Linked DNA regions of Homo sapiens. The protein of the gene in region 3 interacts with the protein of the main gene of each other region in a biochemical or structural test. Each region holds a gene or a part of one and is shown on either strand. Other genes may lie near its edges. The genes, in order: RGS2, GRK2, GNAQ and RGS4.

The links.
Region 1: the proteins of GNAQ (region 3) and RGS2 form a complex in vitro, tested with the Homo sapiens proteins (one study listed by BioGRID).
Region 2: the proteins of GNAQ (region 3) and GRK2 form a complex in vitro, tested with the Homo sapiens proteins (3 studies listed by BioGRID).
Region 4: the proteins of GNAQ (region 3) and RGS4 form a complex in vitro, tested with the Homo sapiens proteins (3 studies listed by BioGRID).

Annotation. Positions count from the first base shown.
Region 1 is NC_000001.11:192,804,763-192,812,038, reverse strand, and holds the start of RGS2 (regulator of G-protein signaling 2), read right to left. Parts: upstream 3,001-7,276; 5' UTR 2,968-3,000; coding exon 2,858-2,967; intron 1,874-2,857; coding exon 1,772-1,873; intron 1,670-1,771; coding exon 1,608-1,669; intron 1,059-1,607; coding exon 892-1,058; intron 638-891; coding exon 443-637; 3' UTR 1-442. UniProt on the Homo sapiens protein: Regulates G protein-coupled receptor signaling cascades. Inhibits signal transduction by increasing the GTPase activity of G protein alpha subunits, thereby driving them into their inactive GDP-bound form.
Region 2 is NC_000011.10:67,276,467-67,283,496, forward strand, and holds part of GRK2 (beta-adrenergic receptor kinase 1), read left to right. Parts: intron 1-805; coding exon 806-882; intron 883-2,733; coding exon 2,734-2,807; intron 2,808-2,951; coding exon 2,952-3,053; intron 3,054-3,159; coding exon 3,160-3,234; intron 3,235-3,372; coding exon 3,373-3,434; intron 3,435-4,265; coding exon 4,266-4,317; intron 4,318-4,626; coding exon 4,627-4,718; intron 4,719-4,992; coding exon 4,993-5,092; intron 5,093-5,183; coding exon 5,184-5,262; intron 5,263-5,355; coding exon 5,356-5,486; intron 5,487-5,804; coding exon 5,805-5,899; intron 5,900-5,968; coding exon 5,969-6,076; intron 6,077-6,285; coding exon 6,286-6,352; intron 6,353-6,661; coding exon 6,662-6,762; intron 6,763-7,030. UniProt on the Homo sapiens protein: Specifically phosphorylates the agonist-occupied form of the beta-adrenergic and closely related receptors, probably inducing a desensitization of them. Key regulator of LPAR1 signaling.
Region 3 is NC_000009.12:78,028,810-78,036,481, forward strand, and holds the start of GNAQ (guanine nucleotide-binding protein G(q) subunit alpha), read right to left. Parts: upstream 3,003-7,672; 5' UTR 2,427-3,002; coding exon 2,291-2,426; intron 2,113-2,290; exon of another isoform or gene 1,933-2,112; intron 1-1,932.
Region 4 is NC_000001.11:163,065,409-163,072,369, reverse strand, and holds the start of RGS4 (regulator of G-protein signaling 4), read right to left. Parts: upstream 2,886-6,961; coding exon 2,842-2,885; intron 466-2,841; exon of another isoform or gene 227-465; intron 1-226. UniProt on the Homo sapiens protein: Inhibits signal transduction by increasing the GTPase activity of G protein alpha subunits thereby driving them into their inactive GDP-bound form. Activity on G(z)-alpha is inhibited by phosphorylation of the G-protein.

The DNA.
Region 1 (7,276 bases), on a different chromosome or scaffold from region 3:
CACATAGTAAACACTTCACTGTTACTGAATCCTAAACTAAAACTACTATGTGGTAACATGGATCGATTTAGGGAAAGATGTACAACCAGCTACCTAAGGCCACATAATCCCAGATCTATTGATTTTAAATGCTTTTGGACCAACAGTATTACATTGTCTCTTTCATCATCTTACATTCCTGCTTTTCAGAGTGAGACACCACGTTCAGACCACCTATTCCCTTCTTGCGTTCTGTACACAGTGAGGGAAGCTGTTCTGATACCAGCTTCTCCTAGTCAGTTACTGGCTTCCTGATTCACTACCCAACTTTGAATCAATAGTTCTGAGTGATGTTTCCTGAACACCCAGGCTGAATTCAAGGTCAGTCTTTATGGCAGGTCACAGTCCTTCCCCTCAGGAAAAAGAATGAAATGTCCTCCATTTCTGGGCTCCCTTTTACATTTCATGTAGCATGAGGCTCTGTGGTGATTTGTGGCTTTTTACACAAGTCCTGGTAGAATTCTGACTCCAAGAAACGAGGATAAGAGTTGTTCTCCATCAAGCTGTATACCCTTTTCTGGGCAGTTGTAAAGCAGCCACTTGTAGCTTCTTGTATATTCTGGGCAATCAGAGTTTTGGTTTGAAAATCTATGTTTATCTGAAATAAAACAAAAAAGTTGTTTATTTGGTATTCAGAGTTAAAGATTAAAATTTAGTATTTGAAAACAAAAAATAAAAATTATGTGTGATTAGCTTTACTAGCTAAGTCACAGGAGAACTTTAACATAACTGAAAGCTACAACGTGGAGGGACTTTTTACCCCTCCTAGCCCGCTTTGTCCTTGATTACTTTGTTTCACTTTTGTGCTAAAGATGTCCAGATTGTGCTGAAATTAGGAACTTGTTTCCTTACCTCTTTTGGAGCTTCCTTTTCTATGAAGTCAGTATATATTTTCCTTGCTTTTGAGGACAGCTTTTGGGGTGATTTGGTTTTTTTGAAGTCTTCACAGGCCAGCCAGAATTCAATATTTTCTTCACAGAATTCCGACTTTAAAAAAGCCCTGAATGCAGCAAGACCATCTGAAGGGGGGAGAAAAGAGAGCATGCAGAATGTGAAGAACTGAGAGACCAAATGATTCCTTATGTTTCTCCTATCCCTCACATTTTAATTATTTCTAAATGAATTTTCTAGATTTCGCTCAAACCTGTAATTCTCAAAATTTAGCTTTTTAAAGACTAAGATACCAGTAGGCAAAAGGCTTATGTTGGCACTCTGCTGCAAAAATATAAGTACTTTGCTGTCAATGCAAAGTAAATATTTATAGGGGAGCCATAAATTCTCTGGGAACTAAGCCTCTTGAAAACATTGTATGCAATGGAAAAACTGACTCAACCTTAACTATAAGCAACTGCCACTTTAATTTGTTTAGGCTGATTTTCTTCCCCACCTGGAGAGAATATATGCATTTATTTGTTAAACCCTGGGAAATAAAGGAAAGAAAAACAGGCTTTATCCTATAGTGACTGCAGTCTAATCCCCCTCAGGCAAGCTGCTCTTTTGTTAGGTGGACGCAGCCTTTCCAGGCTTTTGCGATGTTAGCAATGGCTCAAGCTCAAGAGTTAACTTACATTTGCTGGCTAGCAGCTCGTCAAATGCTTCTGACCACAGCTGTGCTTCCTCAGGAGAAGGCCTGCAAGAGAGGTTCTGTATGTTAGCTTACGCACATCAGAGTTCCCCTTTTCAGTTCAGCAGCTAACTATTGATATTTGCAAGCACAGGATTCTCAACTTACTTGATGAAAGCTTGCTGTTTGCTTTTTTTGCCGGTTTTGGGCTTCCCAGGAGTAGAGGAATTTTGTAAGAAGTAGCTCAAACGGGTCTTCCAATCTTTTAAACTAAAACAAAAAATTAAAAAGATAATTACTAACTAGCAACACTTGAATATGCTACTGCAGCTGAACGCATTTTTACCAAATAAAGTCACCCAGTAACTAGAGACAAACCGCATAAGGCAAAGCAAGAACTCTTCAAATAAGTCTTATCCACCTAACATTTAAACCTCATGTACTGAGCAGTTTCGTCCATTAATCTGACCGTATCTACTAGTTTTACAACTAAGGGCAGGGCTACCTATAATCACTAGGGTATTTTAAAGAATTGTTAATGAATTTAGTTCAAAAGGCAGACACTATTTCTGGCTCACAAAGGGCATCAGTTTGTTTGCAAGGTTAATTACAATTCCGAGACGTTTTGCACTTTAATGAAAAGGACAGACATGGAACTGTCTGGAGCCGGCCCACGCTTCTCTCTTTAGAGCAGGAGGTTCTGGACCACGCCAGAGACTGTACAAAGAGGTGGGTGACTGATTCCCCTGCGCTCTTCCTTCCCCACCTACGACACTTCTTTTAAGCAGACGCTGCATAACAATTATTTGTTCCACATTCGGACTGGGTGAGATCTGCTCTATAATTAAAAAACAAAAATGGATTTTAAACGAGTATATTCAGAACCAGCAAGAGCATCACCTTCCAGTAGCTGTGTAAGCTGATGAGAACTCATCATGCAACGTATGAATGCTGGGGACGCGCTTCAGCCGCAGGATTCTGATGTCATTTTGAATGCAGGAGGACAAAAAGCCAACCCGCAATTTCTTAGCGCATCAACCACCGCCCTCATATCAACTGTCTCCCTCGGTTCTTAAACTGTACCCGAGCATCACCCAGATTTAACCTTACTTAACAAATTGACCTTTTCGATTTTTTTTCCCTGCATAGGCTCAGGCTAGTTTCCTAACGTCAAAGGCGAGCCCGAAAGTACCGCGTTTGCAGCTTGCAGTGTGGGGCAGGGGGTGGCGGGAGAGGGAAGAAAGCCATACTCACAGGGTCCGTTTCATCTTTTCTCGCTTCTCCTCGCTCTTGTGGCCACTGCCTGCGCTCTTGTCCATGGGTCTGCAGTCGTGTTGAACAGCCAAGAACATAGCACTTTGCATTATCGTTCTCCCGCTGGAGCCCCGGCTGTTTGCGGCTGGGCGTGCGTCGCAGCATTTATGAGGCCTCGGCTTGGGGGCGGGGCCTCGCGGCTCCGGCCCCGCCTCAAGAGGACGCGGATTGGTCGGCTGCAGACTGGCACGGGGATGGGTCAGCGCCCGCCGGCGGCAGTCACGGCTGCTGCCGAAGGGTCTCGAAGCCGGGGCGCTGCTGACGTCTGCGGCCCCGGCTTCTTGCGCACTCGGGCCACATAGCAGCGGCCAGCTGGGGCAGGTGTGGGAGCAGATGGAGAGTCTTCAGTGTGGGCCGCTGCGCACGACCTTTTGCTGAAGCGTGGCGGCCGGGCGGGCTCGAGGGCTTTGCGACGGAGGGAGGGAGCCGAAGTTGGCGGCGGCCCGGCGGGGGCGCCGGCGCTCCCTCACCCACCCTGACGGGCTCCCCAGCCCGAGGCCAGAGCGGCGATTCCCTGGCAGGAGGAGGTCGCCCGCCACGAGGCCGGAGTGCAGTGGCCTGATTTCGAATGAAGAGTGGGATTTTTCTTCCTTTTTTGAGCGCGTTCCCTGACCCCGCGCCTCATTTCTTGTTTGCTGTCCTGCTGTAGGACTCATTCGACACCCCCTGGTCTGTGAACTGAGGCAATGGGGAGACCCTCGCCCGTTTCTCTCTGCCACTTAACTTAAGGAAGGAGTAACCTGAAACGTTGATTGCCCAGGGGCAGGGTGGGATCTGCTCTGCAGCTTGCTGGGGCGTCTTGGAACACTTTGAGAATGAACATTAGGGATTGAACAAGAGAAAGTGACTTTATCAGAAGACAGTGCTTTAATTGGGTTTGCATTTTTGATCACTACTAGGCACGTGGCTGGGTCTGTCTATAGGGTCATTCCTCAGGAGTCCTTGGTCACATCTCCTGCCAAAATAGAAATCACAGATTTCCTTATGGTGGGAGAGAAAGCTGCAGACATAGAGATTTCATAGCTGTAATGCACCAGAATCAGTGAGTTCAAGGAGTCAGGATTTCCTCATGAGTCATTCTTGTTGAGTTAGGATTTACCAGAACATTTAATAACTGGCAAAAAGTAGGGGGGAGAATGAGTTAACAGTTTCCTTGATTAAGTTTTATTTGTTAATTCTTCAAGTATCATCTCTACTCCTGAAGGTTTTAAAACGACTTGATTGGTAAAGACAAATAGATTACCTCAACCACAAAATGAGTTGATTTCGGATAATATTACCAGAACTAGCCAGTGAAATGTTTAAGCGGCTTTGCAACCAAGCTGCAGATATTCTCTCTACTTTGTATTCGACTTCTTAAAAGGAAATTGGAAATAATTAATATATTCTTACGGTGAGCTGCCAGTAGTTGGAGCTCCAAGTTTGACTTGGAGGGCAAAACCTGCAGTTATTATTTAAGACAACAGTTGTGGACTTTATTGTGGAAAGGAAAATCGTGTAGATTTCAGTAATAGATACTTTGAAACATGCTTGTTAACTCTAGGAATGCCATTTTTTCTTAAGCATATGCTCTTCCTCTCCTATGCTTTGCATAATAGTCCTACATCTATTTTCACTTTCTGATGACTCAATACGTATTTATCAGCTGTCTGTAATACGCAGACACTTGCTTTTTCTCACCACTGTAAACCTCAATATATTTTATACTTAGAACCTTAGATGTTAGAATTTACTCATAGACAGTTAAATTCGCTGGCAGGCCAGGAGTTCTGACAAAGAGGCAGCAGAGAGAGAGAGCTGGACTTCTGTCAGGAGACCCAGTTAGAGCCTGGGCTTATCCAGTAAATGCTAAGTAACTGTTGGGACACTAGCTTCACACCTCTTTGAGTCCCAGTTTCTCATCTGTAATAAGAGTAACATGTATTTTCTTGCCAGCCTCATAGGATATTATGTGACTCTTACATGAAAGGTCTTTTCTAAGCTCTAAAGTACTGTACGGAAGTTTATTACTGATTTGCATATGTGTGGCAAAAGGAAATGTTCAAATCATAGCTGTTCAAGATGGAAAAAATCGTACGAGGATTAACTCAGACGTAATTAGGTTATAAATATGTAGGTACTATTAAATATCAAGATGTTTCAATTTGTAGGTACACAAATACACAAGATACACAAATTTGTAGAAGATTAAGCTCATTATAGATATTTAATAAATGCTCACTGGATAATACGTAGGAAAAATAAGGAAACTGATTAACATTTAAACTTTTCAGGCTGGGTATTGTGGTTCATGCTGGAAATCCCAGCACTTTGGGAGGCTGAGGCAGGTGGAAGGCTTGAGCTCAGAAGTTCGAGGTTCAAGCATTCAAGTTACAGTGAGCTATGATTGTGCCATTGCACTCCAACCTGAGTGATAGAGTGAGACCCTGTCTCTTAAAATAATAATAATAATTAATTACACTTTTCAGATATCTCCAAGCCAAGGAAGTTTAATCATCTCAATATATTAATGAAAGTGAATATACATGTACCTGCATAAGCAACTGGTTTAAATATAGATTATTCTTGATGTTTTTGTGTTTAATATAATTCTTTGCTTTTTTCATAAACCCTTCCAGATCAGTGACTGATGTTAGGTGGCAGAAAATTAATTTTTCTCTGAAAATTATGTGGTTGGTTAATAAATCTGGATATAAATCAACTTGTAATTTTTGTATCTATATGTAATTTTAAGAGTTAAGGCAGTACCTGCTATAGAAACCTTTTCCTCAAAAACTTGCCATGTTAATGTCTTTTAAAAGACAGGCCAATATATGTATATTTACATATACATGTAATATATGTGACATGAATATATACATCATATATTTCACGCATATATGTAATATGTATTACATGTATATTTACATATGCATTACATATATTTACGTATATATAGGTAAAACAAAAGCTGGAATCTTTGATGACTTCCCTTTTTGTTGTTGCAACTGGCTTTTAGGTAAACAGAATTGCTCCACATAAAGATGACACATATTTTCCATCCTGTGGTAGAGGAAGAAACAATGCAGTGGGTTGTAAAAGTTGCACAACAAAACCTCAGTTTGAGAGTGGCTGATAACCTAACCATACATTTTCTGTGTTGAACCTACCATGCCCTCTACTGGAGAGATTGATTGAACAGATTAGTGGTGGAGGTTTTCCAGATAATTTATGAACTTTCTATATTTTTTTAAAAGTTTATAGAAGAAGGCAAAGAAAAAATACAAGTTTCTTGCATAATGTATCTGAGATTCTTGTATTATATATCTTGCGTGTCTTAAATTATGAAGAGTAAAAATTTCCCCTGTCATACTTCTCCCTTCTGCTCCCACTCTATGCTAACCATTATTAATAAAAGTTATTAATTCCTATTCCTATTAACTAAAAATATTTATATAAAATAACTCACCTACTTAAGCTTTAGAAATGTGAAAGCCATTGGATGCTGTGGCTCACGCTTGTAATCACAGCAGTTTGGAAGGCCAAGGAAGGAGGCTTGCTTGGGCCCAGGAGTTCAAGACCAGCTTTGGCAGCATAGCTAGACCCCGTCTGTACAAAAATATATTAAAAAAAAATTACCTACGCATGGTGGCATGCACCTGTAGCCCCGTCTACTCAGTCAGTTGAAGTGGGAGGATTGCTTGAGCCCAGGGACTTTGAGGCTACAGTGAGCCATGATGGTGCCACGGCCCTCTAGCCTGGGTGACAGAGGGAGACCCTGCCTCTTAAAAAAAAAAAATAAATTAAAAATAAAGAAATAAATAAATAAAAATAGGAAATTTAGGAACCAAGATACTTGCTTTTAAAAACACAAAAGTATCATTCTATGTATTATTCTGTGCTTTGCTTTTTTCAGTTAGTAAGATATTTTAGTTTCCAAATTTCTAAGAGCTGTAAACCTATCGTTTACCTTATGAAATGTTAAATAGGTGGGTTAGTTAAAAAAAAAAAAGGAAAAAATCAGGAAGTTACATGCTATATGGTGATGAGTAATTGGAAAAAATGAAAACTTTTATTACCCTAGTTGTTGAATATATTTAAAGAAGTATAATGCCTGTCTTTAAAAAATTTTTTTGTCCTATTTAGTTGGTGAAATATTCTTTTAACAGAATGAAAATATGACCTCATGAGATTTTGTACTATACTCCTTAACCCCTGATATGATCTGAGATTTAAAAATTATGATTAATTTTTGAGAATGTAATTTTCATACCCAGAAGCTGAGAGAAAATGAGTGTTTTGGTCAGAAATGAATCACAGGTTAAACCTAATACTTGACATGTATTATAGCTAAGTTAATAATTTTACCAATCCTTGTAT
Region 2 (7,030 bases), on a different chromosome or scaffold from region 3:
TGGCCAGGCCCTCCCCTATGGCCATACCAAGCAACCCAGGGCAGGGGTCACATTTTATATCCAAGTACTAGGGACACACGAACCAAGGCATGGCCTTTTCTTACAATTTAAAAAATTGAGATGCAATTCATATAAAATTCATCATTTTATTATACAATGTAGTGTTTTTTAGTACATTGACCGTGTTGTGCAACCCTTACCCCAAAAAGAAACCCCGTCCCCACCGCAGTCACTCCTCTCCCTCTCTCCAGCCCCCGGCAGCCACGGATCTGCGTTCTGTGTCCGTGGATCTGTTCATATGAGTGGAATCTCACAATATGTGGCAACCCTTTGTGACTGGCTTCGTTCAGCCTCATGTTTTCAAGGCTCATCCACGTTGTGGCCCCTGTTGGTGCCTTGTTCCTTTTTACAGCCGAGCCATGTGCTGCTGCGTGGAGATGCCACATGTGTGTCTTTTCATCCGCTCACAAACCAGGCTTGGCTTTTGTGACTTGGCCAAGTTCCCAAAGCCAGCCGGTGGCATCACTGGGACGAGACCCCACAGGCGGTGGGCCTCTGAGCAGGGGGCCACCTGCCGGCCACCCTGGCCTTTGAGGACACAGCCTGGCGGGGGCGGTGCAGGCAAAGGCTTCCTTGAAGCCTTCTGGTCTGACCTGTGGCTGGGATAAGTGAGTAGGCCTGACGGGCTGGCCTCCTTCCTGGAGGGAGTGGCGACACCACCACAGTGCCCTCAGCTCGCGTTTCTGGGCCTGCAGCCCCCACGGGCTCTGGGGGCTTCTGCTTACTGCGCCCCCCTGACCCACAGCATCCGCAGTGTCATGCAGAAGTACCTGGAGGACCGGGGCGAGGTGACCTTTGAGAAGATCTTTTCCCAGAAGCTGGGTGAGTATGGCAGTGGCTCTGCCAGCCACCGGACTTAACTTCTTGCCCCTACCCCAGCCAGCCCAGCTGTGCTCCCCACTCTCCAGAGATTTGGCCTCCCATCCACTCAGGGTGGAGCAGCCAGCGAGACCCCAGGGCTTGCTCCAAGTCGCTGCGACCCTGCGTGCCTCCTTGCCCCTGGCTGTCGGCCCAGGGAGCCCCGTGGTGGGGGTGGGGGCCCAGAGTCTTCCAGGGCCGCCAGGGAAGTTCCTCCTTTGGGGTTTTTGTTTTTGAGAGTTGCAGCTTCCCCTTGGCGCGGCCGCAGCTGCTCTGGGCCGTTGGTAGAACTGACAGGAAGAGGCGGGGCCCTTCCTGTGGCGCCTGCCGAGCTGTGGTTGGCCCCGCCCCACCCCATGGGCCCTCTTTGTAAGCAACCTGCCTGGTGTTGGCCCTCCATTCCTCCTCCAGCTGGTGTCTGATGCCTGCTGTCAGAAGTTTCATGTGACCCACCCTGCGGACCTGGCCCGGAGGGCAGGCTTGGGGCAGGTCTCGGGAAGCAGGCTCCAGCCCCACATGGCTCTGATTTGGCCTTCCCGAGAACAGGAGCTCAGCTCTGGACAGGGGGTATCCTGGCCTGATGGGATCAGGCATTGGGGGTCAGCCTGGGGGAGTCGGTGTGTCAAGAAGCACAAAGTTTGGGTCCCAGGCCTGTGCCTTTTGTCCTTGGGCAAGTTGCTTCACCTCTCTGAGCCTGATGGTGTCCTCATCTGGGAGATGGGACTCATGAGTCCGACTGTGCAGGCCTGTCAGAGTCAGATGGGAGCACTGTGCCCACTGTGAAGCCTGGCCCCCATTCCTCAAAGGCCCTGCACTAAAGGCCAGGCAGTGAGGACTGAAATGATGGCCGCAGCTCTGACCCAGGTGCCCAGGCAGTGCCCCCGAAGGCATGAGAGGCCACCCAGCTCGAGCCTGGTTACCCGTGTCAGACTGGAGGCCTGAGGAGGGCCTCTGTCCCCTGGTAGTGCTCGGGGGCCGGGGTCCAGGGTCCAGGCCCCTTACTCAGGCATGAGGACACCCTATCTGGGGTCCCCTGAGAGCCCCTCCCACAGCCCACCTTGCCTCTCCAGTTCCCTGTGGCTTACACCCGTTCCATGCCCCCTGCCCTGAGGCCCCAGCCCCAACCTCTTTCCCAGGGACCTGCCATTTGGTGGAGTAGCCCTGAGTTCCACTTGAGCCTCTGCCACAGACAGTGTGTCTGACCAGCTCCCTGAGCCCTAGTTTCCCCAACTGGACCCACCCTCCCTGCCTGTTTCTCAGGCTGCTGTGCAAATCAGCCAGACACTGGAGTGGGGCAGGGTCCAGAGGAGTGGTGTGGCCTCAGAGCCCCCTGCTAACCTTTTCCCCATGCTGCAGCCTGACCTGGCCCCGGTGGCCACAGCATCCCAGGGCCCCCAGACTGAATCGTGTTGCACCTGCACAGCCCGCCCCGGTGGGGGGTATCGGCCTCACAGAGCAGGCGCAGGGCCCTGGGCTGCAGTGAGTGGGGGCCCAGGTGCTAAGCCAGGGCTCCCTGATGCCAGAGCCAACCCCGCTCCTCTGCCTCACCCTGGTGCCCATCGCCGTCCAGCTACCACCTGGGGAAACAGATTTCAGGAAGAGGGTAGAAACACAGGGGCCCCAACCCAGAATCCAGGAATCTTCACGTTGGCAGCAGCCTTAGCAGCTGCCTGGCCCACCCCTTGCCTGGGGCCGAGACCACCTTTGCCACCTCCATAGCCAGTTCTGCCCAGGGAGCCCAACCCACACCATCCACAATGATGGGAAGGCCTCTGAGAGAGGCGTGGCTCTGTGACCTTACACTGTTGCCTTCAGGGTACCTGCTCTTCCGAGACTTCTGCCTGAACCACCTGGAGGAGGCCAGGCCCTTGGTGGAATTCTATGAGGAGGTGAGACCCAGAGGCCCAAGCCCTGCTCTGCCTGGAGAAAGGGGAGGAGGTTGGGGCGGCTTTGTGGAACCCACAAGCTGCCTGGTGTGGGCATCCCCATTCCCTGCTGGGCTCTAGATGACCTGCAGGAATCCTGTCCTCCAGATCAAGAAGTACGAGAAGCTGGAGACGGAGGAGGAGCGTGTGGCCCGCAGCCGGGAGATCTTCGACTCATACATCATGAAGGAGCTGCTGGCCTGCTCGCATGTGAGTGTCCTCAGCTGGCCCTGTGTGCTGGCCCAGAGTCACCTGCAGATTGGGAGGGGAAGAGAGGACCCTGCTGAGAATTCATGGCCACCTCTGTCTTCCCCAGCCCTTCTCGAAGAGTGCCACTGAGCATGTCCAAGGCCACCTGGGGAAGAAGCAGGTGCCTCCGGATCTCTTCCAGGTGTGTGCCTCCCGGTCCCTCCCCAGGCAAGGTCACCTTGGACAGCCCCTGGTCAACAAGCCTGGTCAGCCAGGGGTGGGGCCTGGGCAACCACGGTCTCTCGGGGCTCAGTCACCAACTTCCAGCTTCCTCCCTTAGCCATACATCGAAGAGATTTGTCAAAACCTCCGAGGGGACGTGTTCCAGAAATTCATTGAGAGGTGAGAGCAGGGAAGTGTGGGAGAGGAAGGGGGAGGGAGGGGCCGCTCTCAGAAGGGGTATGGCTGGCGTGGAGGGCAGAAGCCAGCCTTCATTAGGCCCTGAGCAGGCAGGTGGCTGGCCCGTCAGCGGCCCCCTTGCAAGGACTCCTGAGAAGTCAGACAGGCTGCAGGTCATCTCCCACCCTGCCCTCCTCAGCACCAGGCAGCTCAAAGCCCATCCCAGGCAGTCTCCTAGCTCCAGGGAGCTAGGAGAGCTGTGCCACCTGTGCCTCTTTCTCTCCCGTGGGCTGTATAGCACCTTGCTGGCCCACCTGGACTGAGAAGCATCAGAGTCCTGGTAGGGGTAGGCCCAGTAGAGCGCATGGCCCCCGTGACCCTCACAGCCAGAGTTGGCGCGGTGGGTGGGAATTGTAGGTAGATTTCAGCCAGCTTTAGGGAGCAGCTGTTTTAGGGTCACTGCTGCCCAGCCATGGAGTGAGCTCTGTGTCACTGGGGGTATGCAAGCAGGGACAGGAGACGTACTTGTCAAGGATATGGTAGCAGGAAGTCTGGGTTAGACTGGAAGACCTCCTTTCTGTGCGGATCTGATTCCAGCAGGAAGCCACGGCCAGGTGGCCGAGGGCCATGCTGGGCACCCAAGCAGCCCTGACTGGTGCTGTGGGCGGGCAGGCCCTCAACATATCCTTCCTGGAAGAGGACATTAACGCTCGTGATGTTTCCACACCTACCCTCACGGGACCCCAGGGAGTGGCGGCTGGGTGGGGAGGCTCACGACAGCATCATCCTTCCCACATTCTGAGTGGCCCCTGAGCCCTGATTCTTCTTTTCCAGCGATAAGTTCACACGGTTTTGCCAGTGGAAGAATGTGGAGCTCAACATCCACGTGAGTGGGCTTGGGTGGGGCATGGAAAGCCACGCACCCTGCTGCTCCTCTCCCGGGAGCTGGGCCTGTGGCTTGGCTGGGAGGGGGAGGTCAGGGGATGTCTGTCCTTTAGCCCCCAGGGCCGTGGCTATGGGGGTCAGGGCCGGGATCCCAGCATGGGGAGGCCGGAGCAGGTAAATATGTGGCAAGGATGGCCAGGACATGGGTATGGGGACCCTGGCATGGGGCCAGCCCCTGCTGCCCAGGTGCCTCTGCCCCAGGGCTGGGCAGAGGCAGCCTGTGGTGACCGCAGCTGTCGCTGCCCCTCAGCTGACCATGAATGACTTCAGCGTGCATCGCATCATTGGGCGCGGGGGCTTTGGCGAGGTCTATGGGTGCCGGAAGGCTGACACAGGCAAGATGTGAGCACCCTGCTCGGCGCGGTGGGATACCTCGGGGAGCCGGGCTCCTGGGGGACCCTGACAGGCCGGGTTCCACACAGGGCCACCTGCTGCTCCATGCACTCCTGTCTTGCCGTGCTGTTACCCCCGCAGGCTCCTCTGGCCCCAGCCCTCCCTGTCTCTGATTTGTGTCACACGCTGGTCCTGGGTCTAGTCTTTCCCTCAAGCGCCCCCTGAGGCAGCCCTGGGCCCCTGCTCTGAGGGTGGGTGTTGACTGCCGACCTCTGCCCCGTAGGTACGCCATGAAGTGCCTGGACAAAAAGCGCATCAAGATGAAGCAGGGGGAGACCCTGGCCCTGAACGAGCGCATCATGCTCTCGCTCGTCAGCACTGGGGTGAGCTGGGTGGGCCGGGCTGCCGCTGAGGCTCTGGAACCCCGGGCGCCCCTGCTAACTGCCCGCCCCCTCCCCTCCTCTCCCCTCCTAGGACTGCCCATTCATTGTCTGCATGTCATACGCGTTCCACACGCCAGACAAGCTCAGCTTCATCCTGGACCTCATGAACGGTGAGTGCTGGCCGGGCCCTAGGGTGGGCCGGGCCCAGGCACGGGAGGCTGGGGCAAGACACTGAGTGCTGCCTGTGGGACTGCCTCCCTCAGGTGGGGACCTGCACTACCACCTCTCCCAGCACGGGGTCTTCTCAGAGGCTGACATGCGCTTCTATGCGGCCGAGATCATCCTGGGCCTGGAGCACATGCACAACCGCTTCGTGGTCTACCGGGACCTGAAGGTGAGCGCCCCTGCTGTCCCCAGGCTGGACCTCCGTGGCTGTCCTCTCCTTCCTCTCGACATCCCGGCCACCAGGCCCAGAGGAGTGGGGCTCCTGGGACATGGCCGCCCCGTATCTTCCCATCTCCGCCCCTGCCCTTCCCACCGAGCCACTCTCTGGGTCCAGGTTGTAGCTGGGGACAGGAGAGAGGACCCCCACCTTTGCCCTTTCTTTGGGTACCCATCGTCCTCTCCAGTGAAGCAGTGACCCAGCTGGCATCTTGCCTGGCTGGGCCCCATCCTGAGCTGCCCCAGGCAGCTCACTGGGCTTCCTTCACAGCCAGCCAACATCCTTCTGGACGAGCATGGCCACGTGCGGATCTCGGACCTGGGCCTGGCCTGTGACTTCTCCAAGAAGAAGCCCCATGCCAGCGTGTGAGTGCCCCCCACCCTCTCCCTCCCCACCCCTTGCCACTCCCGCTTATGGCCCCCTTGCTCCCACAGGGGCACCCACGGGTACATGGCTCCGGAGGTCCTGCAGAAGGGCGTGGCCTACGACAGCAGTGCCGACTGGTTCTCTCTGGGGTGCATGCTCTTCAAGTTGCTGCGGGGGTGAGTGGCCCATCCCAGGTGGGCAGGTGGGTTGGGGCTAAGAGAAGTTCCTCCCCAATCCAGGTGGGATGCCAAAGGAGGGGAGCCCATAGCTGCCTTGGTGGTAGGGTTGGCACCGTCCCTGACTTTGGCCACAGCTCATCCATGCTGCCTGCCTCCCTTTCCCCATTCCTGTCCTTTGACATTGGTTTTTGGCCTTTCTTGCCCAGGCACAGCCCCTTCCGGCAGCACAAGACCAAAGACAAGCATGAGATCGACCGCATGACGCTGACGATGGTGGGTGCAGGTCTCAGTGCAGGGCCGCAGGGGGCTGGGGGGAGCTCCTGTGGGTGCCAGGCCATGACTCTTGCTTCCCACCAGCCAGCAGAGATCTGGGCCACTGACCCCTACTCTGGCCTCTGAGACAGACCTCCTGCCCCATAGGCTCTCGCCCTCCCCGTGCTGTTGGAGCATGACTGCTGGGCGAGCTAGGATGCTGTGCCCCATCTGTCCCTCTGCGGGGGCCTGGACCCCTCTCTCCCCTGAGCTGGGATGGGGTCAAGGGCTCTTCCTAAGCCCCTGCTAATGTCCCACTCCTCTCTAAAGGCCGTGGAGCTGCCCGACTCCTTCTCCCCTGAACTACGCTCCCTGCTGGAGGGGTTGCTGCAGAGGGATGTCAACCGGAGATTGGGCTGCCTGGGCCGAGGGTGAGTACCCTGGCGCCTTGGGCATGCTGCTGGCTGTGCCCCCATGAGGACAAGGGCTGTGTCCCGTCACCTGGAACCCCCTCCAAGGTCCCAGCCTCCTTGGAGGAGCTCATAAGTTGGGGCATGGCCAGCCCTGTCCAATGTTCTCAGAGTGGAGGGGCTGCCCTGGGAGTTGGAGCTGCTGGAACCAGCTAGTAACTGGCTTCCAGAGGGGCCCTTGTCACAGATGATGATGATAGCAGCTTTTTATGTTTATCAAACATTTATT
Region 3 (7,672 bases):
TCAAAAACTCCTGAAATCACACTCATACACATACACGCACGCACAAATCCACATTTAGCGTATATTACTACAGAAATAGTGTAAGTATTGTAGTATTCATGTTGCAAAAGCAATATACCAAGAACATGAAGCAGTAGCAATTCTTGCATGATGTTCCGCTAATAAGAGGAAAAAAAAGTTCTCCACACTACCACCACTTTAGCAGTAAAATTGGTTTACACTTTTTCTCAGAAAATTATCTCCAAGTTCATTTTTAAAAGCACAGTGTTATTTAAATACACAGTATGGAATTAAGCATCCATGTAAGTGTATTTCCCTTAGACATTCAAACCTAGGCCCACTGAGAAACTCCCTGGGCTTTAACTCTTAGCTGCTGGGAAACTCAGAGCTGTCACTTTTCAGGCAAATAGGGTTGGCTGGAGAGACCTCAACTGCCCAGTTCACAATTAAACAGAAACAAAGACTGTCAACAGGGCAATAAAATAAAAAAAAAACACAATTCTTAAAACAAGTCTCTCTAAAATACGTGCGTTTCCCCTTAATTATACACTTAAAACACTCTTATTTCTTTTGTTCTTTATTTTCTTCTCAACCTTGAGAACTCAGAAAACATTCAACTGCCTGTTTTCAGCCACTAGAAGTAGCTCAAAATGAGAATTAAAAAAAAAAAAATCTTTACTTTCCAATTGCAGTTTGCCTCCTCCCTGGCTTCATTCCCCTAAGCCCAACTCTTTCATCCAGTGCTTTTGCCTTCTGCTTTTTATAAACATGTGCACATTTATCTAATTGAGTTTCAAAATGAAGACATAAAGAAAGCATGTCATGGGAATTAACTATTAGTAACTATGTGTGTGATCAGTATATTTTGTTCCTGCTTGTAAATGATCCAGTACATAAGCAGTTCATTCCCAAAGGCAATTGGTTCCTTGAGCCAGCAAATGGAATGCTCAAGATAAGAAAGAAAATGCATGCTTCTCACAAACACCAACTAACAGTACAATATTCTTTTCTTACAGAAATGTTTGAGAAACACATTTATTATACATGCAAATACCCAGAACACAAGTGCAGACATTTTTCAGGCCCGTTACTGCAAAGCTGTTTGCTCTTCCTGCCACAGTAGCTCAGGGTTCTGTCACTGTGGCTTGTATATGAACCCTGATCGCTTGATTCTGAACATCCTCCCAGAGATAATCATCAATAAATTTCTATTTGAGAAATGGCATTTTCTTGCTAACTTAGTGTTGAAGCAGAATTTTTTTTTCAAGACTAGAGGGAAATTTTTCCTGTATGCTTCCCGTTTTTCCTTCTCGCCCAGATTCCAAAGACATTAAAATGCTATCTGTTTTAAACAAAAGGTTTCTATTTGTTGCCAAGAGAGTAACTGAGAGACTGCACTGGTTTTCGGTAGTAACTATTGTGAACTGAGGCCTACATCTAGGTTGCCTCATTAAACAAAAGATACCGGTCGCTGTCAACAACCACACAGCACAACGCTCCCCTACCCTCATCTTTATCTAGAAGGAATGGTGCAGACGAGAATAACGCCTGTCACCATCCACTGGCCAACTCTTCTAGGCTCCCTCCTTTCGATGGTCTGGTGGCTAGAGAACAGCACTTGTGTGACACATTTGGGCTTGCCCTCCCGCCTCGCCCCCAGTACACAGACCCTTTCCTTGGAGGGCCAACCACTTGGCTTCCTCACCATGAGTGCTCCGGGAATCCAGCTGCGAGTCTGCCCACCGTTCCCCCATTCCCTCCTGACCCCATAGGGCACTGATAATGGATGCACACCGGCCACTCCACCGCAGGCCATCCCCCAACGTGCCCCGGCTCCGCTCGCCACCCGCTGGGCCACACACACGGCTCCCCACGCCACCACCCCATGGGGTGCCGCGGCCACGACACTGGAAGTTCAACCCCTCTGCCCACCTTTCCACCCCCGCGCCTCTGGTCGGAGTGATCTGCCATTTAGCAGATGCACAGCAGATAAGGTACAGCCCTCAGGGACACGAAAAGGAACAAGCCAAGGCACCGGGCAGGGCAGCCCCGACCCCTGTGCTGCGTGTGTGTGTCGCTGTGTGTGTGTGTGTGTGTGTGTGTGTGTGTGTCTGTGTGTAACGCGCCCGCGCGCCCGCGCGGGTGAAGGCAGTGGCCGGGGGCGCGCCCGGGAGGGTAGGGGCGAACCGCGGGCGCCGGGGGGCGGGGGCGCCGAAGGCAGCTGCCCCGCAGGGCCAAGGATGGTGGGCTGGGGGCGCAGAGGCCCGGCGGGGCCCCGGACGGTACTCACCGAGCAGCAGCAGCTTGAGCTCCCGGCGGGCGTCCCGCTTGTCCCTGCGGAGCTGCCGCTCGATCTCGTCGTTGATCCGCCGGGCTTCCTTGGCCTCCTCGCTCAGGCAGCACGCCATGATGGACTCCAGAGTCATTCTTCCAAAGTGCCTCCGCTGCAGCCCCGCCGGCACCCCCTGCTCACAGCGCGCACACACACCCTCCCGCCCTCGCTCCCCCGAGGCAGCGGTGGCCGCCGAGCCCCCGCCGCCCGGGCGCGCGTCCGGGACGAGCTCCGGGAACCGCCGCGGGGGCGGCGGCCAGGGCCGGGGCCACCAGGTGGGCCGGGGGCGCGGTGGGAGCGGATAGTCTGGGCCGACGGGAGAAGAGAGGCGGGCGCGGGAGGCGGGCGCTGGCTCGGGGGGCGCGTGAGAGAAGGCCGCCGCGCCCGGCCTCGCTCAGACGCCCGCGCCTCCTTCCCCGGGAACAGGCGGCCCGCCTCGCCCCCCGAGCCGCCGCCGCCGCCGCCGCCTGCGAGGCTCCCCTACGCCGTGCGCCTGGCGGCGAGAGCTCATTCACCGGGGTGTCCCCGCAGCGAGCGGCCGCCGACGGCTCCCCGCGCCCGGCGCGCCCGCTCCTCGCCGCCGCCTGACACGGCTCCCGGGCGCCCTCGGCCCTGTCCGCGCCCACCGCCCGGCTCGCGCGCAGACCCGGTTCCCGTCCCGCCCGGCAACCGCGCGCTCCTCCGCCTCCGCCTCCGCCCCCGCCCCCGCCAGACGCCCACCCCCTGCCCCGATTGCCAGGCGCGGAGCGGCTGCTCAGTGCGAGCCCTCCCCCTCGCCACACACACACATTTTCTTCTTTCTCTGAACTGGAGCACAGATCCGGGAGGGAGGAGGCGGCGGCGAAAGGAGGAGGAGGAAGAGGCGGAGGGGATGGGCGCGGGAGGAGGGAGCCGGGAGGCGGTGCCGCCCGGCCCCTCCTGGAAGGCTTTCCTGGGCTCGCGGCCGCCGCGGCGCGCCTCCCAGTGCGGCTCTCGCCTCGCCCGCGCGGCTCCCGGGCTGGGCCGGCCCCCGCGGGCTCTGCGGACGCCTACTGCTCCCGCACCCTCGGCAGAGTCCGCGGGCGCAGCAGTCACGGCCGCCCCCGGCCGAAGTCGGGGCCAGACCCGGCCGCCGACGCGCAGCCCGAGCCGGCGGCCGCCGTTGCGTGCCAGGGCCGCAGCCGACCTGCGGCTGCCGTCCGGCCGGGCGTGGTGAGACAGGAATATGGCGGCCTCTGCCTGCCTCAGCCCACCGGCCCGGGAGCGCGGCCGCGGCCCCTGCTGAAGTCGCGGGAGGCGGCCCCGCGGAGCCCCGCACGCGCTCCCTGCGGCGCCGGCGCTGGCGTCCGCCGCTCCCGGGCTGTGCCTGTCTGCTCCACGGGGTCGCTCCTCAGCCGTTTCTGTGTTTCCCGTTCCTATTTCTAAAACGCCATTCGGTTAGAAACTCTCACGTCACCTCTGACACCGGTGCAGTCTTAGAAAATAAGCTCCTCTATACTGTGTGGGGCTACTGGGGAAGGGAAGGGAAGGAATTGGCACCGGTGCCCAGAGGTGTAGGGGGAGATTCACAGGCGAAGCTGTTCGCAAAGTAACGTGAGATAGAAATCTAAATCCTGAACAGAGAAAGGAAGCTGCCCAAGTTTCCAAGAGCCTCCCGATAGGTTCCAACTTTTCATGCCTTTGTTTTTTTGGTGGTTGTTGGTTGTTTTTGTTTTTTTAAGTTGTTTTTGTTTTTGTTTTACAAGTTCTCTTGTTTCTGAGAAGGCACACGATGTTTAGCCGCCGAGTAATCGAATTTACTCTTCTAGACTGAGATTGAATTATGGATGACTTATGGGAAAATGTAAAATAATGTGGAATAAAAGGAAAGGAAAGAATGAAATAGAAGAGAAACTAAGGAGGCCCCAGCAAAACGGCATTCTAGTTTTTTTGATTTGCAATATGTGATTGAGGCAGTAAACTGTCGTATGCACATTTCATTGTGATCGTCTACTGATAAATAGCACACGAAAATAATCTTGTTTAATCAGGCCCAGGAGATGAAACTCATATTGCTTCCTGCCTTAAAGGAACCTGAGGTCTTCAAAGAAAATTGTCTTTTATGAAGAGAACCGCTTTTTCACGTTTCATGTGTTCTCTGAAGTGTCCCTGGTGCAACCTGCTGATCCAGAGTGTAAGGTACGGTCATGACTCTGCTTTTGCTACAGATCAAGAACTCATATAGGGTTCTTAGACAACAGGTGTGTAACTTCCTTCTTTCTTTCATTTGCCATTACTCCACCGTTTCACACACATACACACACTCTAAACCACGATTTAAATCAAGCAAGTCAAGATATAAAATATATATTTTAGGTTCTCTGTTTAAAACCTAGAAAATAATTAAATTTCACCTTGCCCTGGAGAGCAGAGAGGGCAAACCTCAACCCTTTTATGTGAATGCCTACAGAGAACAGCTAGACTTGCTATGAAATTAAAATTTAAAATCAAGTGACTAAAGAAATTAAAGATTGAAATTCAGTATGCAAAAATAGAAAGTGGCTTCAGAAGAAAAAATTTTAAGTTTGCATCCTCCGAATATATGTATGTATATGAGCTTTGGAGAGACACAGAACACTGGAAAACCAAATGACAGAAAGCTTGAAGTCTCTGGTTACCTACCCAGGGATCCTCTGAGACTTTTAAAAATGTCTTTTAAAATGAGCCATCAGGCTATCAGGTAATATGTTTTGACTGAATTGTCCTATTATTTGATGAATTCATCTGTTTCAGCGGGCTATAGAGTCAGAGTCTGTTTTGTCCCCCCTGTATCCCCCCAACATCATGAACACTCCCTGGCAACTTAGATACTTAAATGGATGCAATGAATCAATAGGAGAATGTTTCAAGTATTGGGGAGAAACCAGGAAGTAAGAAAAACCAACACTCTACAGTGATAAAGCCATATATGGGTGTCAAGAAGGAAACAGGAAAAGAAATTCCAAGTCTGAGCCCAGATCTATCCAAAAACCTTTTCATATTATCTGGAGAGCGTTTGCCAAGCAAATATTCCTAGAGACTAAGTCAAACAAATAGAACCCATGCAGAAACAACTGATAGTTGACCATGTTCTACAAGCACATACTCTAAAACATGCAACTAAACAGGGATTATGTTACAAAATCCCAGTTCATTCAGTCAACAAGCATTTATTCATTGCCTACTATGTGTAAATAACAGGTGAAGGTACAGGATAAGAGAGATACTAAAATGAATAAAATACAGTCCTTACCCTCCATAGGCTTATAGTCTTATAATGAGGCTCTAAGCAGCTATAATACAAGACTAAAATCAATTTGTATAAAATTTGGGGTGGAAGTAACAACATAAAGGTATAAAAAGGAAGGGGAGAACTGGAAAAGATACGGCAGGAAAAGGGGCATTGACATGCATGTTAAAGAATGAAAAGGTTTTCAATAAATAGGTACCTACATCACCTCAAAGTAAATGAGCAATTCCAAGTCACCCCACACAGAGAGTAAGATGATAAACCATTTTGAGAATTCAAGGACAATTACTAATGAGCTGAAAAGCAAATTGCAATACCCAAGGAAAATTGAACTTCAGAGAAAAATAGGAAGACTGTCACCTTTTCTATGGTATCCTGAGATGGATCTCCAACCCCACAATCATATCACCCTGTCCTTTGGGGACTGGCAAAGAAAAACAGTAAAAGGCATAGTTTAGTCTTAAGGAGTGGTTCTGCAGTCAAAGAATGAAAAGGCCATGCTCTTCTAAAAGGATCTCCTGGGGAAGGAAAGGCCCATAGAGGTCATCAGACACAGGCAATATACAGTACCTCTCTTATTCCCAGTCACTTAGCATGGCTGCTTCATATGCACCATACTACTGTCATTCTCTGTGTTCTCTTTCTCTCTGCCCCCTTCCCCTCTGAATTAGGAGCTTCTTGAGAGCGGGGACCATGTTTTTCATAACTGTTTTCAAGGCACCAGAAAGAGAGCCTAGCCTAGAACAGCTACTCAGTAAATAATGAATAAACAAAAGAATGCTACCACCTACATCATCAACAAACACACACTTACAGACTGCCTGTCCCAGGCAGTGTATTATGCCAGATGCCTGAGGCATACAAAGCCCTTAAAGGCTTCATAATCTATTTGGTGAGACAGGCCATGTGTTTCAAAGAATAAACAATACAAAATGAGAAACACTCGTTGCTAACATACAGTATGGAAAATGGATTGCTAACAAAGTTCAAGAGAAGCAGTTCCCTAAGCTGCCATTCAAATTAACCCAGAGTATGAGGAAGCACACGCTGGTCACCCAGAAGACCTTTTAGAAATCAGCCTGAAGAGCATCGCAGATCCTACAAGAGCTGGGAAAGAGATGTCTGGCCAAGTAATAAAGTGGACTTGCTCGTGGGGAAGAAAAAGAAGCCGACCTAGTGAGACGCTGAGAGCTGCAAATGGCGCCACCTACAGGAACATTCTTATAACAGCAGAAAAACTGAGATTCTTAATTGGAACTGTCCTGTTGAAAGAAGAGCAGGGCCAACATGTTGAAGATGAAAAACTAGGCACGAAGCACATCTTCTAAAAGAGAAAATACCCACATTACAAATCATATAGCAGATATTCTAGAATCTAAATGAAGCATAGTACCTCAGTGACATCTTTCCTTTACCAAGCTCAAAAAACGTACCCGGGTAATACTCTGATTCCAATCAAATGTATCTATCTTGTGCTTATCCAGGGTTAGCAATATCAAGGGAAGTACTGTACTTTACAGTTTGAAGGCCACCAAAGTCCCGGTAGACTGGAAGACTCTAAAAGGCTTGTCAGATGGGAGCTCATTTTAAGCTGAGTAGAATAGTGTTTCAGCCAGAGAAGCTAATGTTTGATGAATGAATAAGCAAATGAACCCATTACGTTCATTTCCTTTTGATGATTTCTCATGTAAAGCTCAATAAGGCTGAGATTTTTGTCTGTTTTGTTCACTCCTGAATCCAGCATCTAGAACAATGCCAGGAGTATAATAGATGTTTAATAAACATTTGTTAAATGAATGAAAATTAGATCTTCCAGTGAAAGAAGCCACATGTTGACCACATGACAGTCTCTCTCTCTCTCTTTTTTTTTTTTCCTTAGCCAGATTGTGTGCACCAAAGCTTGGCTCCCTCTGTAAAATGTTCTTCCACCCTGTGCTTCAAAATCTTGCCTCCAATGCGTTCACCAAGGAAAATTAGCCATCACTAGAGTATTCAGAAAGTTGGGAAGCAGTATTTTTGTTCAAAACCCAGATGGAAGCCTATATTAATTCCACCTAAATCAACTTTATAGGAGAGTTGATATTCCTATTACC
Region 4 (6,961 bases), on a different chromosome or scaffold from region 3:
AAATAGTAATAACCAGCTTTCTTTAAAAGATACCTAATGGTAGAGCTTGAAGAGTCCATTACTAGTCTATGGCTCAGAGACAGTTTAGGGAACGGGAGTTGGAGTTGGCATGACCTCTGAGGAAAACAAGATTCCTCTTGGTTCCCTATGACTTGCTACAAAACCTTGAGGCAGTCATAACACCATTTCCTTCATCCACAACTGGAATTCTGACCCTTCAGTTTACCTCAGAAACCTGAGAAGCCTTTATATGCCCGTCATTTTGACCAACCGAATATCTTTGGTATCTTCAACAGAACCTGAATCACTGAACACATGAGTGATCTCTGAGTAATTTTTAGGAATCAGAAAGCAGTAGCGGCAAAAGATGCACATCCTTGCTGCACGCCACCTTCTGGCAGGTGATTGCTATTTCCATCTGTTCCCCTGCTGGCAGAGGGAACTGTAGAAGCACCTCGGGAAAGTAAAAGTCTATTCAGTTCCAGCCATGTATGTTGGGGGGGGGGGGGGGGGGCAAGCAGTTCCTGCTGTGAGGTATAGAGGGAGAATACACTGAGGTGCACAGTTCCAGCAGAGGGAAATGGAGCATGGGATGGCGAAAACAAATGCCCAAGCTGAAACCTCAGCTTCTTGGGGCTTCTTTCTAGACAATATCTGCTGCTGCTGCTTTCCTTCTTAATAGCTACTTTAAAGGACATACACACTCTAAAGGGCATTTGAGGCTTAACAGCTATTAGGAGAAGCAGGCTAGAGTCATCACTGAGCTTCCAGTTTATTGCCACCATTTAATAGGTAGCCAGGGCACATTAGAGCTCCTGACTAACTAGAAAAAGGGGGTCTTTTAATAAGCCTTAAGCTCAACTCTCTTACTTTTTATTAAATATCCTCTTGCTTGCATCTCTTTTTATTAAAAAAGTCAAGAAATAGTTTAAAAAGAGAAATACCATTTTAAAAGAAATGAATAACTAAATGTGTCTATTTGGAGTAGGGAAAATAAAGCCTCAAAGATATAAAGACATTTAGGATGGCCACTAATACATTTATGTATGTAGGTTTTCCCAGAAAGTTTGAATTCCATTATGTTCTCTGACTGTCCCTTAAATAGTATTTTCTCTTCCTCGCAAGATTACTTTCCCTCCTCTGCTTCCCTGACTGATGACTGTTCAGGGGATGCAACATCCTTTTTGATTATAACAAGATACAATCCTGAATGTTAGGGTGATTCCAAGGTGATAATGTAAATATATCATGAAGTCCAAATAGAAACGAATTCATATTTCTATGTGCTGGATCCACCTGAGATCCTAGAGTTATTAATCAATGCAGGGGGTAAGTGTGCTTAGCAAGTATTCTTATAATAAAACCATAAAAATAAAAAACAAAATGACTTCAGAAGTTACTGGAGTCAGGAATTCTAGATTTGGTCCTAACTCACCCACCACCTATGTGACCTTGAGAAGGCAATGGCTCCTCTGGAGCCTCAGGCACTGGTGGTAAAGATGTTGGACTAGATGATTTGCAATTTATTGAGGAGGAAAGGGAAGAGCAGTTCATCCTGCTGACATAGAGTTTACCTCCTTAGATTAGCTGCTTAACTCTTTGAGGACAGAGCTCTAGTATTATCTTTTATCTGTTTTGCAAAATATTTACCAGAGCATAACTTTCTCCTGACACTCTTGTATTTTTGTACGGTTCATTTCATATGCAAGTTAAGTGAAGCTTGAAGTAATTTGCTCCACTCCATTCAGAAAATTAAGCGTGAAGGTCAGAGGAACTTATTTCATAGATACTCTCTGCCAGACCCTCCTGCTTCATTTTAAAGAAGCCATCGATACTTCCATACTCCTGAATGACAGAATATTTGGAAAGTAAATGTTTTAATAGTACATAAAAAATTATGTTTTCTGAGATTATTTCCAAAATAAAATTTGTGGTAATTTCTATTTGCAGTGCGATAAGAAAGCAGGTAGTATACCTTTAGGTTGACTTTTTACCTTTGACTGCAAGATTAAGTAATGTAATATGCACTCATTTTGTGTTTAATTTTCAACTGGCTAATATATGATCTTTCTCTGAATGCATTTCTTTATACCTTTTTTGAACAAACCAAAAACAAATGAATAGCTGTATGTCTGTAAGGTCTTTTAAAAAAATCAAGGGAGTATATTAACAAAACAATGTCTTTAAGATGAGATCTTCTACAAAACTATTAACTGATTTGTAATGATCAATATTTCTCAACCAAACTCATATGAGACACTTCAAGAACTAGAGATGGGGCAGAGAGATAAGGAAGATCTGGCTTTAAAACTCATATCTCATTGTAACATTTGCTTATAAGAACATAGAGAGTGAAAGTTACTGCACCACCACACGGAAAGCATAGTGCCTTTCTGATGATGGAGCCAAACCTCATTCTGGGGTACCTTTCCTGAAACAAGTTGTAGCATACAATCAGAAAGCCCAGAGCCAGGCTTCTATGTACTCCAGGGATGCTCAAATAGCAGTAGTAATCACAGATGGAGATATTACAGATCACTGTACATAGCCTCAAACCTCATCTCGCTTCTTAATTAAAACTAGCTTTCTTAGACCTGGCTTAAAGAATAGAACAGTTCTCAAAACTGAGGTCACACAAAACAACACATAAGGGCTGAAATTTGGGGAGCACATGTCTTAAGTCACAATATCTAGCTAGTCTTGGAGGAAAGTTAGAAAGTCGTGCTCTCCTGACCACACTGTTTCTAATTGCACAGAACTAGGTTAGTAAGTACAACATGTAAATAACTGAGAAAGTCTAGCCAAAAGTTTAATATGGTTAATGGCTGAAAGCAATCTTACCTCCTCAAGCAAGAAGCCGGCAGACCTGCAAGCCCTTTGCACATCTTATTTAACAGCTTGGAATTCGCAAGCAGGAAAGAAATGCGGCAGGAGGAGCTGTGGCTTCGGCTTTGAGCGTACTTTGCCTCTTCTCCGGTAAAGATATTGTCAGAATCCTCTGAGCGTCTTCCTGCTAAGCCTGTAGGGGTCTCTTTTATAGCCCAGCTACGACCGTCCAGCCAATCAGACGACCGCTCTGCAGTACCAGCTCCTCTGTCTCCCTCTGCCTCTCCAGCCCCTGAAAGAGATGAGGAAGAAAAGACTGACGCATCAGCAATGTTAAGTGAACGAGCAGAGAAAATCCTTCTGAAAAGTAGGGATATGGGAAAAAATGTACTCAATGTCTCCACCAATGTCAGAGGTTTAGAATTTCTAGAAAAGGAAAAAAAGTGTACAATGCTGCAAAATATAGTTTTTATTCATATGCCTGTAAAAAAAAAATATCAAGGAAGTTGCTTCCTGGAAGGAAAAGTACCAGCAGGAATTCTGGAGCTTACTTAGGAGCTGACTCCCAATGCCTTTCCTCTTTTGGATTAGAAGCATCATATTATACATGGTCCAAGATCTGATCCTCACGATTTCCAAAAGGGAGCTGGCAGGATCATCGTCTCCACGCAGTGATTTGCGGAAGTTGCCTTGGTTGTTATGCAAACAAGAAGGTGGAGAGAAATAGCTGGATGACAGACAGTTATAAGCCCGGCAGCATACAGAAACTACCCTAGGAAAAATAGATTTGCTATATCTGTAATCAACCTGACTGAGGAATACTTTTCTAGAAATCTTGGTAACAACAGAATTCAGCCTAGCACTGACAGTTTCTCCTTCACATGCCTGCGTCCTGTAAAAAGTCTAAACCGGCAGCTCGAGGACCAAAGGAGGGAGTAGATGAGCAAATATACACAGCAATTCTTATATCAAATGGGTTTATGTCTTATGTAATTCTAAGTCTCCAAACTGATATTTCAAAAGATAAAGAAAGAGAGATGTAGAGAGAAAGAGAGAGAGCAGGCAGAAAAATATGTAGTTTGCTTTGCGTATCACCAGCCTTCAAACTGATTGTAAGAATATTAAGCCCTATAGGTGTTTCTGAACACCTAGACAATCAGTATCTTTTACATACAATATCATGAACTGAAATGCCTGCATGGACAGAATCATTCAGGTGTTTCACATCTTATAGCCATAAACCAAATACCTACACCAGAGTTACAGAGGAAAGCTATAAGTGGAAGAAGGGAATTAATTGCTAGATCTGACCAAAACAGCTTTCATTTAGAAAGCAGATAGGTTCCTGATCATAGGCTACAGTGAGCTATACTTTATATATAAGAAACAGAGGCATCAAATAGTTTAGGTGGAAGAGATGAAAAATAGTTGGGTTCCAGTGAGATGCAAAATACCAAAAATATAGAAAGAATGGCACAAAGCAATGCCCATATGTGGCCCTACCCAATACGTGCCCTTGAACATCCCACACTGCCCCCACTACCAACACGTTCCATGACTAGCAGAGCAAGGAGACAGCAGACAAATGTAAAGTGGTGGAGGGACCATAATCTACAGAAGATGCATTTAAATTATAGGAAAAAGTCTCTAGCCGCCCATAAGAGGGCATTTATTGGATTAGCTACTGGGCAACTTTTCCTTGAATTATAACATAGAACAAATGAATGTTGACAGCCATCCTTGATGGTGGTGTGGAAGGAACTGAAGTGCAATATGAAACTAGGAAGGCCCTCAGACCAAGGAAGATGGACCAGGGAAATGAATCAGTCAGAACTGACATTAAAGAGGTCAGACTAATTAAAAGGGAAAGAAGGTCACTCAAAGAAAGACCATGGCCTTCTTTGTTTACCTGGGCACCTAAAAGAGTGATCACTCAAATAGATTGATTTCAGGAACATAAGTGAGTACCCAAAAAGATTTACTGATGCCTGAAATTCCACAATAAAAGTTTTATGTCTTGCACTTAGAATAAGAGAAGCCTGATTTGTCATGAGTTAAATATAAATCACTGCAATAGATGGGACTTTAAAGACAAAATGGGACTTCAAAGGCAATCTAGCCTAACACTCTCATTTCACCAAAAAGGAAATAGAGACCCAGAAAGAGAAAGTGACTTGCTGAGGTTACAGCTTCTTACTAACAGAGCTGGGTCCAGATACAGGTGTCTCGATACTCAGTTATGTGGATTGTCCACCATGCTATCCCATCACTCAACAGTCTTATCAAATAAGGTAAACTGTGTAAATAGAGATATTTCTAAACTACAAAGTGCTAGTCAAATAATTTTTATCATTCTATTATACACAGTATAGAACATAACCCAAAATTAATTTTACACATTTTATTCAAGGAGTGTTCACTTGCCCAATTTGTTCTTGCTCCTTGAAAGCAGGAGCTGCTGCTTTCAAGACATATTAACTAACATGTCTCTAACTTTGTGCTTAGCTCATTACTCTGTTCAGGCATTTCATGTTTACTCACTTCTTTGACTATTAAATCTTGCTTTCTTAGGAGTTTTAAGACTTTTAAAAAAGTGTTTGTAAAACGCTTCACATGAGTTAACTTACTTTTTCACTGTGGGACTTGCAGATTGTGTTTGAGGAGGCGAGGACTGGTACATCATGATACCTTGACAACCTTCCACCTTCTTTCTCTGATATGCACAAAGCATCAAATTCTGTTATTCTATGATTTGTCATTCCTGAATGACTCTGGTAGTGTGGAAGAGCTTTACTCTCAAAAGATCTACTTTTTATTTGTTCATTTGTTTAAGAAATATCTTTTGACCACCTACTCTGTATCAGGTGCTGTTTGAAGCAGTACCTGATACAAGCAGATAAAATCTCCGCTCTAGTAGAGTTTTCATCTCAGTAGAAGGAGTCAGAAAATAAACAAATCAGGTGATTCCAGATTTTGACCTGTACCATGAATAAAATGGGCAGGTGATGTGCTAGAGAGTAATCAGATGGTGAAGGGCTAATTCAGCCAAGGTGGTCAGGAAAGCCCTCTTTGAAGAGGTGGTATCTAAAATGAGATTTGATGGGTGAGAAGGAGAAAGCAATGCAAGAAGCCTAGGAATTAGTATTCCAAATAGAAGTAAGAGCAAGTGCGAGTGTTCTTTATCTAAATTGGGAAAGAACATAGCCATAAAAAAGAATGAAATCATGCCTTTTGCAGCAGCCTAGATAGAACTGGGGGCCATTATCATAAGTAAAACAAGACAGACACAGAAAGACAAATATTGCATGTTATCACTTATAAGTAGGAGCTAAATAATGTGTACACATAGATGTAGAGTGTGGAATGATGGACAATGGAGCCTCAGAAGGATGAGGGGGCAAGAAGTCAGCGGATGGTGAGAAATTACTTAAGGGGTACAATGCACATCATTCAGGTGATGAATACCCAGGGGGCAAGAAGTCAGCGGATGGTGAGAAATTACTTAAGGGGTACAATGCACATCATTCAGGTGATGAATACCCAGGGGGCAAGAAGTCAGCGGATGGTGAGAAATTACTTAAGGGGTACAATGTACATCATTCAGGTGATGAATACCCTAAAAGCCCTGATTTTATCACTATACAACCTATGCATCTAAAAAGATTTCACTTATAACCCATAAATATATACAAATTTTAAAAATTAAAAAAAAATGGGAAAGAACAAGAAGGGGCCAGCATAGCTAGAGAATTGAGAACAAGATGAAAGTAGCATAAAAGGAGATGGAAAAGTAAACGATAGATCGTGCAAGGATTTGTAGGCTGTGGTCAAGAGGCTGGACTTTATCAGAGTGCAGTGGAAATCCATGGAAGAAACAGAAGCAGAGGAGGGGTCTCATCTGATCATTCTGACTCTTGTGAAAGAAAGACTGAGATGAGTGGGCAGAGTGTGGAAGCAGGGAGACCAGTTAGCAGAGTTAGCAGTTTGATTCCTGTTTCGTCGATTATATATATATTTATTATTATATAGTAAGTCCTCAATGTCATCAATAGATTATTGGAAACAGTGACTTTAAGTGAAACAAGGTACAGCAGGTCCTTGAATGCCATCATTTCATCAATGCCATTTCATTATA